3 linked regions of the Homo sapiens genome follow. The protein of the gene in region 1 purifies or fractionates together with the protein of each later gene. This does not show direct contact. Each region holds a gene or a part of one and is shown on either strand. Other genes may lie near its edges. The genes, in order: BTN3A2, PEX13 and SLC39A11.

Evidence for each region.
Region 2: the proteins of BTN3A2 (region 1) and PEX13 purify together in Homo sapiens (affinity purification with mass spectrometry; 3 studies listed by BioGRID and IntAct, with this or other methods). This does not show direct contact.
Region 3: the proteins of BTN3A2 (region 1) and SLC39A11 purify together in Homo sapiens (affinity purification with mass spectrometry; 2 studies listed by BioGRID and IntAct, with this or other methods). This does not show direct contact.

Annotation. Positions count from the first base shown.
Region 1 is NC_000006.12:26,360,923-26,368,232, forward strand, and holds the start of BTN3A2 (butyrophilin subfamily 3 member A2 isoform a precursor), read left to right. Parts: upstream 1-4,275; 5' UTR 4,276-4,414; coding exon of another isoform or gene 4,415-4,430; intron 4,431-7,052; exon of another isoform or gene 7,053-7,067; 5' UTR 7,068-7,128; intron 7,129-7,255; 5' UTR 7,256-7,260; coding exon 7,261-7,310. UniProt on the Homo sapiens protein: Plays a role in T-cell responses in the adaptive immune response. Inhibits the release of IFNG from activated T-cells.
Region 2 is NC_000002.12:61,048,650-61,052,543, forward strand, and holds the end of PEX13 (peroxisome biogenesis factor 13), read left to right. Parts: coding exon 1-121; 3' UTR 122-3,341; downstream 3,342-3,894. UniProt on the Homo sapiens protein: Component of the PEX13-PEX14 docking complex, a translocon channel that specifically mediates the import of peroxisomal cargo proteins bound to PEX5 receptor.
Region 3 is NC_000017.11:72,648,612-72,655,734, reverse strand, and holds part of SLC39A11 (zinc transporter ZIP11), read left to right. Parts: intron 1-6,466; coding exon 6,467-6,565; intron 6,566-6,773; coding exon 6,774-6,932; intron 6,933-7,123. UniProt on the Homo sapiens protein: Zinc importer that regulates cytosolic zinc concentrations either via zinc influx from the extracellular compartment or efflux from intracellular organelles such as Golgi apparatus. May transport copper ions as well.

The sequences.
Region 1 (7,310 bases):
GATGGTGCCACAGTCTACCACCTCAGAGAGAAAATAGAAAAGGGAGGTCCCAAACTTCCTGCTCCACCACCTATACCTGTCCCTCATGATCTGTTTCCTCTGATTTCAACAAGCAGGTGTTCTTTCTCCTGTCTCAGGCTAATTCTGCACCCACATCGGGGAGCCCCCACCCCAGCTTCCCTCAGGCTTCTCTATTTGGTCAATTCATTAATTCATTCATTTGACAAGGATCCATGAACGCTAACTATGTGCCAGTCACTATTCTAGGTGGTGGAGTCACAGAAGTGAACAAAACAGAAAGTTCTCATTCAAAAACAACATAACTTGTGGTAGGAGGCAGACAGGAAATGAAATAATTAGTAATATATATGGTGTGCTGGATGATGATAAGTGCTCAGGAGAGAAATAAACCTGGAATAGCAGAACTTGCATTTCTTTTTGAAGGGGTCTTGCTCTGTTGTTCAGGCTAGAGTACATTGGAGTGATCATAGCTCACTGCAGCCTAATTTTTTTTTTTTTTGAAAGACAGAGATCTTGCTATGCATACTGCCCAGGTTCTTGAACTCCTGGCCTCATGCAATTCTCCTCCCTCGATCTTTCAAGGTCCTGTGATTACACCTGTAAGCCCTCGTTCCCGGTTGGAAGTTACAGTTTAAAATAGGGTGGTTATGAGCAAGGGGAGCGAGGCACAGAATACTTGGGAGAAAAGCATTCCGAGTTGAGAGAACAGCAGTGCCAGAGCACAGAGGCAGAAGCACTGTGGTTTGTGTGAAGAAAAGCAATGAGGCTGGGGTGCGCAGAGCACACAGGGTGATCAGGAGAAGAGGAGGTGACAAGGCCAGAGGGGGTTGAGGGCCAGATCATGTATGGCCTTGAAAGTCATCATGCTGACCTGGGCTTTACCTCTGAGAGGGGAGCCACTGGAAGGTTAGAGCAGAAAAAGGACTGGACTGACTTATGTTTTAAGAAGTTACTTCACATGCTAGACCAAGATGGGCTGTGGGTAGGGGTGGTGGATGGAGGCCTGAAGACCCAGCTGGGAGCTACTGCAGTGATCCAGGGGAAAGATGCAGATGACTTGTACCAGGGAGGAGCCATGAAAATGTTATGATGCTGGATTTATTTTCAAGATAGAATAAAAAGGCTTTGCTGATAAACTTACAGGTGGGGTGTGAAAAAGGAGGGCATCAAGGGTGACCACAAGGTTTTGGTCCTAAGAAACGGTACAGATGGAGTTGCCACTTACTGAGATGGGGAAAATGAGGGAGAAACCGCTTGTGGAGGCCAGAGGAGGAGCCAGCACAGAATCCAAAGGTCAGTTTTGAATATGTTGGGTTTGAGGAGCTTACTAGAGATTCCCGTGGAGATGTAGAGTAGGCAGGTCAATAATAAGCTTGCAGTCCAGGCAACGGGTCAGGGCTGGAAACACAAGTTATTCTCTTTGTCTTCTTTATATTCATGTTTGTTGCCACTGTGTGTTTCACTTACCTAATGCATTCGTGATTTATTGCTGCATAACAAATTACCACAAACTTAGTGGTTTAAAACAGTACACTTTTCCAGCCTGGGCAACATGATGAAACCCCATCTCTACTGAAAACGCAAAAAATAAAAGATAAAAAATTAGCCCAGCGTGGTGGCACACACCTATAATCCCCGCTACTTGGTAGGCTGAGGCACAAGAATTGCTAGAACCCAGGAAGTGGAGGTTGCAGTGAGCCAAGATTGTGCCACTGCACTCCAGCCTGGGCAACACAGCGAGACTCTGCCTCAAAAATAAATAAATAAATAACAGTACACTTTTATCACTTCAGTTTCTGTGGGTCAGAAGTCCAGGCAGAGCTTAGTGGGCTTCTCTGCTCAGAACTTCACAAAGCAAAAGTATTATTCATGCATGTAAACCTCTAAGCACAATACCAACATCACGGTAGGTTCTATGTGAGTATAAGCTATTATTAAGAATAATAATCAATCCTCTTCCCTCTCCTCCATCCCTAAGGCCTCATCATTTCTTGCCTGGAGTGTCACAGTAGCTTTCTTCCTGGTCTCCTTGTCTTCTACCATCTGATTCTCTAATGAGGACTGGCTATATTGTGTAATCATAGCGTCATCATTCCACAGAATACAATGTAAATGGCACTCTTACTTCCCATCTTCCCTGGCACCTTTCACACTATTGTTTCCAATGTACACATTTTCTCATGCCATTTTTAAAAAAGATTTTCTCTTCACCTTCAAACTAAAACTCCAACTCCACAACAGGCACCAGCTGATACCGAACCTTTCATAATGGAAAATAATGACATTCATAAAGAGTTAATATGTGCAGGTGCTGTGCTAGGTTCTCCCCAAACAACTTAAGAAGCAGGTCACATCCCTACCCATAGCTGAAGAAACAAAGACATTGAGTGAGAAATGAACTTAGGGGTCTCATAGTTTGGAAACTACAAAGTTCAGAGATATGAAGAGTTGGGCTCAGAAACTCCTAATCTGAAGCTTAGCACATTGGCTGCTTCTTTGTGTCAAAGTGACTTGGACCCTCCAGGCAAAGGTGGGATGTTCATTCTTACTAATACGATCTCAAGCAGCACAGCTTCTGATAGAGTCTGAATTTAAAAATAAACAAATGAACAAATAAACAAATATTGATGGATGAATAGGGGTGAACAGCAGGATGGATTTATAATAAAGTAAGAAACTAAAATATTAATTATACAATCTACATGGTAGATATATTGGAATTTACTGAAATTCTTTCACCTTTGCTATATGTTTTAGAAGTTTTATAATAAACTGTTGGGGAGGGGGAAGGGGGAGGGAAAAATTGTGTTTTTCTGTTGATAACAGAGACCAGAAGTACCACTGGCTTAAATAAAACAAGGATTTGTTTTCCTTTCATGAAAAACAAACTTATTTGGAAATTTACCCTGAGTACTAATATATAATAAAATATTTTAAAAGAAAAAATTTTTTAAATAAATTTAGATGGTGACAGTCCAGGGCTGATCTGGCACCTCAGATATGTCATTCATGCCCCAGCCTGCTTCTGACTTCATTCTCTGCTGTCCCAGTGTGTGGCTTCCAACCTCAAGGCTGCCTCATGGTCCCAGGGTGGGCTACTGCACCTCCGGGTCCAAAGTCCATGTTCTAGGCAAGAGGAAGAAGGAAGAAGGGAGAGTGTACCCTCACACTCCCAGCTATTTTGGCCTCCCTTTGAAGGATTTCTGGGAGAAGTACAAGCCCACAACTTTCACCTACAAACCGCTGGCTCCAACTTAGTCCCTTGGCCTGCCCTATCTTCAAGGGGGAAGAGCAGGATGCAGTACCCCAGAAAATTAGGCCTTGTCACTAAGAAGAAGGGGGCATGCACGCTGCAGAAGCAACCAGCCATCTCAAGCAGATACCACACAGCCTAAATTCAAACTGTTGCAATATAATCAAATCCCATCAGCTCCAGTCACATATTAGCTCTAGGAGATTTCTGGCTTGCAGCCCAAAAAAGTGTGTTTTGAGGTCGTAAGCCACAGGGAGAACAAGATTGTCCCATAAACTCCTTACAGAGATGGTGTACAGGAAACGAGCCTTACAGAGACCACAGCCTATGGAGTGTCTAGCTTCAGAGAATATGTACTCCACTGGCAGCGTGAGAAACAAATACCCAAGAAAATACAATATAGCACAAACCAGGAGCTGAGGGTGAATGAAGATGCTCAGAAAGATCTGCAGTAAGAATTTCCTGGGAAAGGTAAAACAATGTCAAGCAGCACTGCCTCTGGAAATCAGAAAAATTATATTATTTGATACCATATCCTAAGCCTAAATGCCAGAAGTTCTTAAAGAGGTGCAGTTTGTCTCATTTTCTTTCCATTCATACCTTTATTAGGCTCTGTAAAAAAGATCCTCCTCTTCTACGTACCTATCTACATGCAAGCAAACTGCCACAGAAGCATCTTAATTAGTGCACATCTTCCTCTCTTTGCACATTAAATTTTTTTACTTTCCTACTCCATTCTGCTAATATTTCTATTACCATGTAAAAGACACGAGACAGGTGAATATAAAGAAATACTTATATACATCCACGCACAAGAATGATTCAAATAGATAAACACAGAAACACAAACACTAAGGGAGGTAGGGCTGGAGTTTTTCCTCAACGTGTACAATTCAATGTACTTTCAGTTTTCATTTCAACGTTCCTCAGTGGTTTCTGCCCAGCAACTGATGAGAAACATCACCTCTGAGCCAATCAAAAAACTAATTCTTCCAAAGAGCGACTCTTACTGTTTCTCATGGTGAGAAGACAATATTTGCTTTCTCTTTTTCCTTTCTTCCGGATGAGAGGCTAAGCCATAATAGAAAGAATGGAGAATTATTGATTGACCGTCTTTATTCTGTGGGCTCTGATTCTCCAATGGGAATACCAAGGGGTAAGTGCAGGAAATTGATTAGAGCCTGGGCTACAACGCATGGGAGGAGCGGGGCTGAATCGCTGAGAGTGGTGAGTGGGCATGCAGGGAGAGTACTCTCCCAGAGAAAGGGGTGCAGTGCCTGTGTGTGTGTGTGTGTGTGTGTGTGTGTGTGTGTGTGTGTGTACATGTGTACATGTGCACACTCGCACATGCACATATGGGCACGTGGGAAGACGGGAGAAGTACTGCAAAGTATAAGGAACTGCAGAGGTTGGGATTTAGTGGAAGGAAAGGGAGACAACATGAATGAAGAAATATTCCAACTGCATGTTCTTAACGTATTGTGGTCAGAAAAGGGCAAACAAACAAACAAACAAAAAACCCTTAAAATCTGTTCTGGCCAACTCAAGGCATCTATTCTGAGAAATTCTGAAGAAGAAGAAGAAAAAAGAGATGTGCCTCATAGATTTATATGTAAATGTGTTTATTACAGAAGTATTTATAATATAGTAAAATCTGAACCAACATACATATTCAACAGGTGGGGAATAGACAAACAATGCATGGTTCAGTCATAAAACATGTTCCATGTAACCATTAGGAATCATAATTTTAATTAAGTGAAATTCTTTATAATTTTAATAACACTGGATCCTTATATTAAACCATTTTTGGTATCTTTTAGGGATAGTACTTGGTTTTCTTTCCATTCATCATTTCCCCAAAACCTAAAGCATGATTTCCCATGGTTACAAGCTACTACATTGTATGAATATATAATTATTGGGAGTCTCTGTGAGCCTACTCTGACTCAGAAAGCCGCTCCTAAAGAAGAAAAAAGAACAAACAAACAAATAAAAAACCCGAATTATTTTTAAAACTCTTTATTTTGGATTTTTCAGTTTCTACATTTTGTTACTGTAGATTTTACTAGATTGAACAGCCTTATCCATAAATATTTGCATCAATCTCTAAATTTTTTTCTTCAACACTAACTTTTATAGTTGGAATTTTGGGGGCAAATAATACAACATTTTAAAGGCACTTGCCATGTGTACATGGCCAAATGCTTCCAGAAACATTTCCACTTCCATTAGCAAAGTATATAACTACAGAGTATTTAAGGTTTTATTCCTTTATATTTTTTTCTTTGGCAAAATTGTCTATAGTAGAAAGAATGAATAATAAATAACCTAAAAAATAAAAGTTCTCCCTCTGAGGACAGCAGAGAAATTTTTAGCTTAGCTTAATAATACCTCCTTCTCCTTAGGAGAATAAAGAGCAGTTTCGAGGAGCAGAAGATGTGGTGAAATATAATGTTTAGTCTGATGGTGGATGCAAGATCCAGGCAGGGGTGGAGCATGACCAGCTGCACAGACCTCTGTTCCCTTGCTTCCTCTACATCTCTCCCCACCTCCATCTGCAGACCTTGTTCTCAGAGGCCATTCCCAGACCCACAGCAGCTGGTATGATGGCTGCAGGCCTCATGCTCCTTTGTTTTGGGAGAAACTGTTGAGGAGTTAGTATTTACTGAGCAGCTAATATGTTCCAGTCACTATTATTCCTCATAATAATTAGTTATTAACTAATACATGAAAATTTTAAACTTAAAGCATTCCAATAATTTTAAAAGTAAAGGAAGCAAAAGGCCAAAGCGTCCTTTCACTCACTTAACCTCCAATTTTCAGTTTAGCATCCATCATTTTAGACTTTTTCAGGCATTTACATATATAGTTATGCAGAAATGTATAGCTTTGCTTTTGTTTTTCAATTGAATCATTAGTATAGTTCTGCAAGGTGCTTTTTAATCACTTAGTATATCTCCATTATCCAGGCTAGTGACATTAAATCACTCTTTTTAACTGCTGCATTGAATTTCCTCCTAGGGATGAGCCATCATTCCTCTAACCAGTCTCTTGTGAGTGGCTGGTTCAGTTGGTAACCACTTTTATACTTTAAAAATAGTGCTGCAGTGTCATTCCCACAGAGGCTTCTCTCTGCACCCATGCGAGTACTTCGCTGAAGTAACCATCAGGAAGTGGAATTGCTGGGCCAATTGTGAACATTCTAAGTCTCATACTCGATATTTTTGAGTAACTAAAGTTGAAATGGTTTTGTCCCATGACTGAGATCATCAAGCTTGTGACTTGTAGAGCCTTTACCTATTGTCTACCCTCTTTGTGTTCCTAACTCTACCATAGTGGGTCCAGCCCATTGTGGGTGCTCAGTAAATATTTGTTGAATAACTTTATGAAGGGAAGAAAGAAAAGATGAGTAAAGCCTGGTCTTATTCAAAGCTCTCCTAATCAATATCTTTGTGATTAAACGTGGTGGGTTCAGCCCCTGACTGACTTCAGAGCCTCTGCCAGGCAGTCTGCCTGGATCCCACCAGGAGCCACCAGGCCATAAGTTGACTGTAGTAATGGCCAAGAGTTTGACGCTTGAGGAGTCCATAGTGTTGGACACCCACAGAGCTGAACAAGGGTGGGACCAGGGAATCCAGTGAAGAGGGTCCTTCATGAATCAGAGGGGGATGATGGAAGCTTGGACCTGGCAAGGGAAGTGTGGGGAAGTGATAGGATTATGAATATTTTAATATTTTAATGCAGTAGAGTCAGAGATGTCCTGATCAGATAACAGATATTATTTTTACAGATGGTTTTCCATACTGGAACCCAAAGGTAAAGACACTCAAGGACAGACATTTTTGGCAGAGGTAAGATCTTCTTCGGTCACCATATTTGAGTTAGCCCTGGGGAAGTGGACATTTCCATGCAGAATCCTAAAGCTTCTTCCAGGCCATAGTGTCTGTCCCACACCTTCTGGTATCTCTTGATATGCAGCATAGATGAAAATGGCAAGTTCCCTGGCTTTCCTTCTGCTCAACTTTCATGTCTC
Region 2 (3,894 bases), on another chromosome or scaffold:
CACGGTTGCTGATTCTTTGGATGAACAGGAAGCTGCCTTTGAATCTGTTTTTGTTGAAACTAATAAGGTTCCAGTTGCACCTGATTCCATTGGGAAAGATGGAGAAAAGCAAGATCTTTGATATCTTTCATGTTTGCCTGCAGTTGAACAATACTTTAGAGTACTTTTTAAAATTATTTCTCACAAAGAAATGAATGTACAATCCAATGAAAACATTTGTTATTGGCTATTTCAGGTGTTTTGCTGCTAGAAATTATTAAAGTTACACACTAGTATGTTGGTCTGGTGACCTGGTTACATTTTATTATACACATTATTGGACCATAAGGACATTTGTTTCACCTAGATTTTAAGATTATGGAGACTGCTGTCATTTTTATCTTATTTAAATCTCTAGGTTTATTGGAAGAGTAAGATTGATGAACTATAGCATGCACAGTTTGGTACAGTAGAGATCATTAATACTTTTAAAAGTTCTGCATTAATTGACTTGGAATCCTTAGAAATGGAGTGGTGACATGTCAGTATGAGAACAGGCAAAAGGTAAATTTTTTTTTTTTTTTACAACCTTAAGTAATCTCAATAATAAAATTTTCTGATCTGTATTATATCCAGTGTTGGGTTTATATTTTCACCCACAAACAACTGACACTGCTATCTTTTACTGTATTTTTAAAAATTTAATTTGAAAAGGTCACCCAGAAGCATTCTGAAGGAAATGGTTCTAGAATTATAGAGTATGTAGCCCTAATAGTTTTCCCTCCTAGCAAAAAGTCTGAAATTTATCTTTCTTACAAACTGTTCCATTTCTTCTAAGGATCCCTTAATTATTTATCTCTTTAAGCCAGGCATGGTGGCTCACGCCTGTAATCCCAGCACTTTGGGAGGCTGAGGCGGGCAGATCACCTGAGGTTGGGAGTTCAAGACCACCCTGACCAACATGGAGAAACCCCATCTTTACGAAAAATACAAAATTAGCTAGGTGTGGTGGCACATGCCTGTAATCCCAGCTACTCGGGAGGCTGAGGCAGGAGAATTGCTTGAACCCCAGGAGGCGGAGGTTACGCTGAGCCGGAGATCTCGCCATTGCACTTCAGCCTGGGCAACAAAAGCGAAACTCCATCTCAAAAAATAAAATTATTTATTTCTTTAAAATATGACTAGTTTTCATACTGGGTGAATCAGAAGTATATGAAAGGTATACTTTCTTTTCCTACAACAAATACTTGAGTTCTTTTGAGTTTGCACTTAATGATATAATCAGTTATAATAGTAATTTTTAATATTTTCATAGATTGTTTGCTTCTACCTTGTGTAATTTTTTAAATTCCATATTTAGGATGCTCTGTAAATATTGAAAATGTGTCACATTGGATACATTTTTCTTTTAGGTTTAGTTTTTACTACTGAGACTTATTTATAGTCTTAGTGCTCTATTGCCATTTAGAATATGATAATCCTCATGCCTTTAATCTCAGCACTTTGGGAGGCCAAGGCGGGCGGATCACCTGCGGTCAGGAGTTTGAGACCAGCCTGGCCAACACGGTGAAACCCTGTCTCTACTAAAAATACGAAAATTAGCTGGGTGCAGTGGCGTGCACCTGTAGTCCCAGCTACTCAGGAGGCTGAGGCAGGAGAATCACTTGAACCCGGGAGGCAGAGGTTGCAGGGAGCTGAGATCATGCCACTGCACTCCAGCCTAGGGGACAGAGCAAGACTCTGTCTCAAAACAAACAAACAAAAAATAATAATACGATAATGCTATTTGACGTGTTTTTTGGTTTATAATGATTTTAAATGCAGTTAACTTTCAGTACACTGAATATTTCCCCAGAAAATTGGAAACTTCATATACTTGGCTACGAACATACTACAGAGTAATACTATCAGGAATACAGGTGTATAAGAATACATTTATAGATATTGTTGAAAACTTTGAACTGTTTGATAAAAATTGTGATTTAGTATTTTTTCTTTTGTCTTTTTTTGAAACGGAGTCTCACTCTGTCGCCCAGGCTGGAGTCCAGTGGCGCGATCTCGGCTCACTGCAAGCTCCGCCTCCCGGGTTCACGCCATTCTCCTGCCTCAGCCTCCCGAGTAGCTGGGACTACAGGCGCCTGCCACCAGGCCCGGCTAATTTTTTTTGTATTTTTAGTAGAGACGGGGTTTCACCGTGTTACCCAGGATGGTCTCCATCTCCTGACCTCGTGATGAGCCCGCTTCGGTCTCCCAAAGTGTTGGGATTACAGGCGTGAGCCACCGCACCCAGCGATTTAGTATTTTTTTCTAATAGACTATGTTCAACAAATAAGTAATTCTCGAATAGTTCAGATTAAAACATACAGGAACCAAGTACATACCCAGCATAGAAGAACTTTACTAAAGGCTTCTTGGAAAGCCCTTTTTTGAAACGACAGTATCGTAAGTAACATATCATTTATAATAGAAATCTTGACCCAGTGCAGAAAAATAAATATAGTAAAATTTATTTATCTTTGGCCAGTTTTCCAACACCCAGGTATTAGCCTTGAAGTTGAAGAGATAAGGTTTCTTGTATATTATTTTTCATTTGTGTTCTACAATTAAAGGTTCTGCTTTGATTTGTCAGATAATTTATAGAAATTTTGTTCTCAAAACAAATGTTTGATAAAACAGATTATTAAATTTGGGGTTGAGATGTCTAAATTGAATGCTAGAAGTAAAGTAGAAGTGACCACTATTAAAGATGTATAGGGAGAAGAGTACAGCACAAAGTGATAAAATAGTGACACTTTTGTAGGGGTGTTTATTGTTTGGTTAAGTCTGCTAAATTACGGTATGCATTATCTGGTGACTATTTGTGCCTGAAAATTCGTTTTGTATTAAAATTCTGGAGAAGGAATTCAGGACTAGAATAAAGAGAAATTTTGTAACCTTTTTTATCATGACAGTTTTAGAATAATTTTTTTAGCTGAGATTAAATGTTCAAGGCTCCAATATTATTTTTAGGAACTTATTTAAGGAGTGCTACTTTACAGAAATTACTAACACACCAAAACATTATTAATTAAATAAAATATAAGTTTACAATAATAAAACATGTTTCTTTTAATTTTTCTGATTATATTTTATGAGTTCAGAAAGGAAATGGTAAAAGAACTATACATTTTCATGTTTTAACATTTTATGTACGTACTTGATTCTGTCTGTGTCATAATTACACATTTACTTGAACACAGCTATCCTTTATCTTGTGCTTTCTTTAATAGAAAAATGAACAGAAACTGAATGCAGTTAAATTTTTATTTTTAGTAGGTTGTGAAGTTACTTTTACTGGAGAAATAAAAATATGTTAAACTTGATTGACTTTTTAAGATAAATTGTTAACACTTTTGCAGGATTAGAATTAATATGAAGTATCTCTTTAACATTATTGTATATATTACCTACTGCAAACCTATCTGTTCTGTTTCTTTGTGATTTAAAGAAAAATAGGCCAGGCATTGTGGCTCACACCTATAATCCCAGCACTTTGGGAGGCCAAGGCGGGCGGATCACAAGGTCAGGAGTTCGAGACCAGCCTGACCAATATGATGAAACCCCGTCTCTACTAAAAATACAAAAATTAGCCAGGTGTGGCGGTGGGTGCCTGTAGTCCCAGCTACTTGGGAGGCTGAGGCAGGAGAATTGCTTGAACCTGGGAGGCAGAGATTGCAGTGAGCCGAGATCGCGCCACTGCACTCCAGTCTGTGCGACAGAGCGAGACTCCATCTAAAAAGAAAAAAACAAAAAAAAAAGAAAAATAATACATTTATATAGAATTACCTACAGGTGTGTTAAATAAAAACACTTCATACCTAGATTTTGGGGGATCTAGATTCTAGTTTAGACATCACTGCTTACTGTAAGATTTAA
Region 3 (7,123 bases), on another chromosome or scaffold:
CCTCCAAAGCTCCCCAGATCAGATCTTGTATATAGTAAGCACCCCGGTTGCAGGCTCCTGATGCATTCAGTAGTGGCCACAGGTGTCCTCGGCTCCCAGACTGTGTTGGGAATTCGAATAGCAGGGAAGGGGCTCCTGGGAGGGAGGCGGGCTTGGCCTCCATCCTCATCCTCACCTCCTCTGACACCTGCTTAGGCCAGTGGCTCTCAACGCCCTCGCACACTCTTAAAATCTGCACACAGGGGGCCCAATGCCACGGCAATAAACCGAGATCTCCAGGGCAGGGCCGAGGCATCGGCATTTGCCGGTGCTCCCTGTGACTGGCATGTGTCGTCAGGTCTGAGAGCCGTGGATTCAAATCCCACTCTGGAGCTGATGCAGGTGATTGAAGAAGAGGAGAGGGCTGGAAGGGACTGTGTCCTCCACTGGGCCACCCCCACCAGTGGGCCTCTGACCAATGCCCAACAAGCAGCGGGGCGAGGGAACTTGGATGGGCCTGTGCGTGTGCACGGGTGTGTGGAGGAGAGCCCAGTTAGGCAGTGTTGTGCATGACAGGTAGGAAAGGCAGAGAAACTGTGGTGCCAGCCCCTGCTGGGGAGCAAAGGAGCCCAGGAGTGTCAGGAGGGACTCTGACCGCCCAGCAATGCAATGCCCTGCTGAGAAAGGCCTGGCAGGATCCAGAGGGCATGGCAGCTGTTTGGGCTGGCAGCCCCGTGCCAGGGCTGGGGCAAGGCAGAGGTAACGAGGCTTGCCAGGGATGGAAGAATGGGGTTTCTGTGCTGCTTATCAGGATGGTGGCTCCCAGACAGGATGTGGAGGAGGCTCCCACAGCCCGCCGGGCGATGGCTGTAGTCAGCGCTATGTCACGGCGAGGACTTTGGATGGGGAGCCCCACCTCTGATTTGTCAGTGACATTGGGCTGGTCACTCTGCGGCTACCTTCGTGTGCCTGCCTGTGAATATGAGGTGCAGGCAATGGCAGCGGACTGAGAGCCAGCCACCAAGTGCCTGGCAAAGCCCAAGATATCAGAAGCCTTGGCCTTCCTCATTGGAAAGAAACCTTGCACTTCGGACTTTGCAAAAGGTCAAGGAAGCTGGTTGTATTCACTCAACCATTTTGAGGGCTACAAGGAGATGCTGAACAAAGTCGCAGGGAAGGGGCCCCCCTGAGGGTCTATCTGGGAAGGCGGGGCAGGGGCTTATGAAATATTGGCAAGAATTTATCCTTAAGAATTTGTCCTCAACATAAATATATTCACATGTCTCCAACTCCTGGAATAGGAGCTCAGGGTCAGCTTGCACATGAAATTGGTAGCAGAAGCTGCGAGAACAGGCCGCATTTCTGCCCAGGGCTGGTTAGAACACGCTTGTCAGCATCCTATAACTGAAGCAACGTTCAACAGTGTCTTCCAAAGCTAGCTTTCGAGTCCTAGGCCTGGGGCCCCAGAGGGAAGAAGTGAGGCCATTAACTCCGATCCTATACCCAATGCCAGAAGCGGCACCCATCACCCTCCCTGGCAGAGCAGCAGAAGAGGGGAGCCTAGGACCTTTCAAGGTGAGGAAGAGAGCTCCTGACCCTTTTGTCCTGCCCCTATAGACTGGCTAGGAAGACATGTTAGGGACCCAGAAAATAAGGAAAAGCAAGATGGCTAAGCAGGGCCACCCGCTCACTCCCCATGCCCCACCCTTCCGCACACACACGCACATTTTAAACACAAGGGACCAGAATGACACCTTTTTCCTAAACATCTGTAGCTAGATTTCCTTTTTCATCCTGTCTCATTTCTCCAAATCCTTCTCTCCTGTTGAACTAGGACAGATCAAGACTATGTGGAGGATATGTAAGCTACAGTTGACTTCCTGCCCAGGGCCTCACCTCCTAGAAGCACTTCTCAGGGAAGTGTAAAACTGTCCCCAGCTGCCCAGGACAAAATCTTCAGAGGTGACCCCCAGGGCTCAATTATCCAATGGAGCTTTCCATACTTTAAAGTGCAGCAGGCCGGGTGAGGTGACTCACACCTGTAATCCCGCACTTTGGGAGGCCGAGTCGAGCAGATTACCTGAGGTCAGGAGTTCGAGACCACCCTGGCCAACATGGTAAAACCCCATCTCTACTAAAAATACAAAAATTAGCTGGGCGTGGTGGTGGGCACTTGTAATCCCAGCTACTGGGGAGGCTGAGGCAGGAGAATCGCTTGAACCCATGAGGCGGAGGTTGCAGTGAGCTGAGATCACGCCACTGCACCACTTCAGCCTGGGTGACAGAGCGAGACTCCTTCTCAAAAAAAAAAAAAGAAAAGAAAAGAAAAGAAAAACCAAAACAAAAAAAAAGGGTGCAGTGGCTCATACCTGTAATCCCAGCACTTTTCAAGGCTGAGGCAGGTGGATCATCTGAGGTCAGGAGTTTGAGACCAGCCTGGCTAATATTCTGAAACCCTGTCTCTGCTAAAAATACAAAAAAAAAATAGGGGGGTGTGGTGGCACATGCCTGTAATCCCAGCTACTCGGGAGGCTGAAGCAGGAGAATCGCTTGAACCCCAGAGGTGAAGGCTGCAGTGAGCTGAGATCGTGCCAGTGCACTCTAGCCTGGATGACAGAGCGAGACTCCATCTCAAAAAAAAAAAAGAAAAAAAAAGCGTGCAACAGAAGAGTCAAGCCCACCAGGCTCATCAGAATGCCCCCTACTCCCTTCCAGCAGCTCTCCCCTCCTCTGTGCCCAGGGAAGCGTCCAGCCTCCAGACATTTACTGGGGCTCAGGGGGGTCTGGAGGTGATAGAAGGAATTCTTCTATATGTGCCAGCCTAGGAGAAGCAAGAATCCACATCTCCCGGGAGTTTCTGTACAACCCAAACAGACCAAGCAGTATATAGGAACACAGTATCTGAAATGCCTTCAGGTTGCACAGTGGTTCTCACCAAAATCTTACAAGTGATGTAAAAATCTCACACAAGTGTCAACAAGAGCAAATGAGTGAGTGCCGATGGAAACTCAAGCATAGATGAGCCATAAGCAAAACAGCCAAGCCAGGTCTCTTTGAAACAGAGCTTTGCAGAGGAATGAGTTTTGGCTTTAGGGTAGAAAATCTTAGTCTCTCTTGGAAAGAGGACGCATGAGTTCTTGGAAAAGCTTTAAGTCCCTGTCTCTGTTATTTCACGCTGCAACCTCAGTGATAACACTCACCCTCACCCCAGGACAGGCATTGATTACGTGCTTACTGCATACTAGCTCCCGTGTGCTAAGGGCTTGAGAGGGACCATCCCAGGTAATCATATCAGCAACGCTGTGAAGTGAGGGTGGGTATTGTTCTTCAAATTCTGCAGTTGGAGAAATGGAAAGTAGCACAGCTAACAAAGCACAGACCCAGGATTTGGACAGAAGAAGTCAGACTGCAAAGCCCAAACTTCAACTACCACATGCATGGCCATGAGAACATAAGAAGAGATAGGGTCTGCAATGCCCAGGGTCTGTGGTTTCATCTTGCCAGATCTTTCTGCAGCCACTGAGCTATCAGGGCAGGGGTCAGCAAACTGCAGCCCATGGGCCAAATCTGGCCCCCCACTCATTTGTGTAGATAAAGTTTTATTGGAACACAGCCACACTCAATGGTTTATGTACTGTCCATAGCCACTTTTGCACCTGCAATGTCAGAGTTGAGTGGTTGCAACAGAGACTCAGTGGACTGCAAAACCTCAAATATTTACTATCTGGCCCATGACAGAAAAAGTTTGCTGCCCCCTAGATCCAGGGATGAAGTTGGAGCATGTTTGAGCCCCTCTCTAAGGAGTCAAAGGAGAGCACAAACTTGGGTGATATAGACAGGGATTTGGGTAGACTCGTGGGAAATGCTGAGTGATGCAGCTTTTGTGGACATGTCCTGGGCTGGTGTGGTGGGGTGTCTTCTTGTCTGTCCACTCCACTTCATGAACAGTTCTGCCTGCAGGTTGGAGAGACAGGCTCAATGCTTCTGTCAGTCCCAAGAGACCATAATATTTCCTTTATTAAGGAACTGATCAGTTTTCGGATGCTATCACTTTTCAGATGCCCCCTGGGGAAGCTGCTTTGTCCCTCTTCACAGTTTCCCACCCCCAGCCAGTCTAGGCCCCACAGCTCCTAAGTCAGCTCAGGGCTTCTTCCCCCAACCCCACCCTAGGGGGACCATCCCTGCCACGGGGTGCTCACTATTCTCCATCACTTCTGTTACATATCCATGTCCCCTAATGCCACCTGTTTTGTTACTCCTGTCCTGTGTTGCTCCGGATCTCCTCCAGAGCTCTCCACATCAGATCTTGTATACAGTAAGCACCCTGGGCTGCAGGCTCCTGATGCATTCAGTAGTGGCCACAGGTGTCCTCGGCTCCCAGCCTGTGTTGGGAATTGGGATAGCAGGGAAGGGGCTCCTGGGAGGGGGGTGGGCTTGACTGCTTTCCTCATCCTCACCTCCCATGATGCCTGCTTAGGCCAGTGGCTCTCAACGCTGTTGCACACAGGGGCAGATTTTAAGCTGATGGGTAGATGCTGAGGGGCTCATTGTAATCTTGTCAAAAAGGGATGGGCACTAATTCTATGAACCACATGTGAGCTAAGTGGTGACAGGTATGAGATTCTGTTAGGGCTGGACTTTTCCTAAGAGTCTACTTGACTGGCAGACTCGAGGTGGGGGCTACTTCTTCCTGAGGTATCTGGAACTACGAACCTCAATGAAACATGTGCAGGAGTTGGGGGATAAAGGTAAAAAAAACAGGGTAAAGGCCAAACCCTGAAACAAAATGGAGGTCAGATGCTAAACTGGGGATTCGCCTTGGTGTTCTTTGTTAGAGGCTGGAACTTGGGCCTCAGCCGGATCAGGCCTGACAGGACCTTCAGGGCCACGAGTGTGTCCCAGTCCCGGGAGCCTGGGGCAGGTCATAGGCAGGGGTCCCAGCTACCAGTCTACAACACTCCCTTGCAGCAATGGGTAGATTCCTATTGGCAGCAAGATGGATGGACGTGAGCCAGTTGACCTGAAAGTCGGTGATGGTGGAGTTTCTCTTCTCTATCTAATCTACCCACAATTCCCTCGGGCCACACACCAGCATTGCTTGCCGAGTGGCACCCTCTTCTCACGCCCTTTAGATCATTGTTGATCAGATGGCCCTTCATGGAGGGGCTGCTTCTTGGAACTGTCCGGCCAAGGTAGAGTCTCACGTGCAAAAGGGCCTTCCTAAGGCACTCGGACTGGCCCCATTTCCCTCCTCTGCTTCCCTCATGCCTCTGTTTCCTGTGCAAGTTGACTTTTGGCTGATTTGCTGTAGTTTGCAGCATCCACAATAAGGGTTCTTCATGTACATGCCTGTGTTGTCTCCATGGCTAAATACTAAGCCCCCTGAGGCCAGGCATGTGGTCACAGATTGCATTTGTACGCATCCCATTTTGCTTCTCCCTCCTCTCACACTCCAATGCCTGGTTTGTGCAGAAAGCAGCTTCTCAAAGACAGGCATCTATCAGCACAGCCTGTCACTGTCCTGCAGAGGCAGGAGGTGAGAGGATCACTGTGAGCACCACTGGGGCCCAAAGAAATGCAGCGATGGTGCCAGACCTGCAGAGCCCACGGAGAAGCTGAGCCCAGAGCCAGATCTGTGGCACCATCAGCGTCTGCAGCTGCACTTCCTTGTCCCATTTCTGAAGTGGCCTCTGAATAAAATGTGATATACTCATTTCTGTGCTGTAACAGAATAGAAACCAAAATGCATTAAGCACCTCTCTATGCTAGGATGTGATAGGCATTATTGGGTCACTGGGTCACTCAGCAATCCTTTATGGTAGATATTGTTGTCCCTAAATTGTATACAAGAAACAGAGGTGTAGGCTGGGTGCCGTGGCTCACGCCCATAATCCCAGCACTTTGGGAGGCCAAGGCAGGCAGATCACTTGAGGTCAGGAGTTGGAGACCAGCCTGGCCAACATGGTAAAACCCCATCTCTACTAAAAATACAAAAATTAGCTGGAAATCACTTGAACCCGGGAGGTGGAGGTTGCAGTGAGCCGAGATCATGCCACTGCACTCCAGCCTGGAGTCTCCAGAGCGAGACTCCATCTCAAAAAAAAAAAAAAAGAAAAAGAAAAAAAGAAAAAGAAACAGAGGCGTAGAAAGTAAAATGAAAAGTGCAGTTATACAGCCACGTGGCAGAACTCAGGGCACCCTGAGAGCCAGCCAGTGTGTTCTGTGCTGTAGCAAAGCATTGTAAGGACAGAGCCTGCCCAGGACCCAGGACAGCATGATGGGTAGAGGGCTCACGTCACTCCCTCCTGCAGCCCCTGCTCTTTACCTAGACACACGTCCTGACCTTTCTCCTTCCTCTCCTACTGCAGGTCACAGGTCTCCTCCTGGCTTCCTAGCACCCACGGAGGTCTTGGCCTCGGCCAGGGACTCCCATTGTGTGAGCACCTATTCCAGACAGCAGCCTTCATGTGCTTTCTTGGTTTTTCAGGAATTTGGCCATTGGAATCGGGATCCAGAATTTCCCCGAGGGCCTGGCTGTCAGCCTTCCCTTGCGAGGGGCAGGCTTCTCCACCTGGAGAGCTTTCTGGTGAGTGCTGCCCAAGGGCAAGGCCATGTCACAGCATCCTCCATGTGGGCTTCTTTCAACAAAACAGTGATGTGCTTTTGCACTGCCATGCTCAGATATGACGTAGAATGGCATGCATCCATGTGCTAGGGTTGAGCCAACAGTCTGGGCACGTGGAGTGTCTGCTTGCCTCCCCCTGCGGTGGTAAATGTCTCTGTTCTCTCCTTAGGTATGGGCAGCTGAGCGGCATGGTGGAGCCCCTGGCCGGGGTCTTTGGTGCCTTTGCCGTGGTGCTGGCTGAGCCCATCCTGCCCTACGCTCTGGCCTTTGCTGCCGGTGCCATGGTCTACGTGGTCATGGACGACATCATCCCCGAAGCCCAGATCAGGTTGGAGAACCTTCCCTCCCTGTCTGTCCCTGTCCCAGTCCCAGCTGGGACCCCAGCCTTGGGATATGCTCTTTCTTCATTTGCCTTTCCTTTCCTTATTCCCTCCCCCTCTCTGCCCCTTCCCAAGATCATCCCCACTGCCTCCTCAACTGTGCTCTCTGAAACTAAAAGAAAAGAAGCTAAGGGCATGT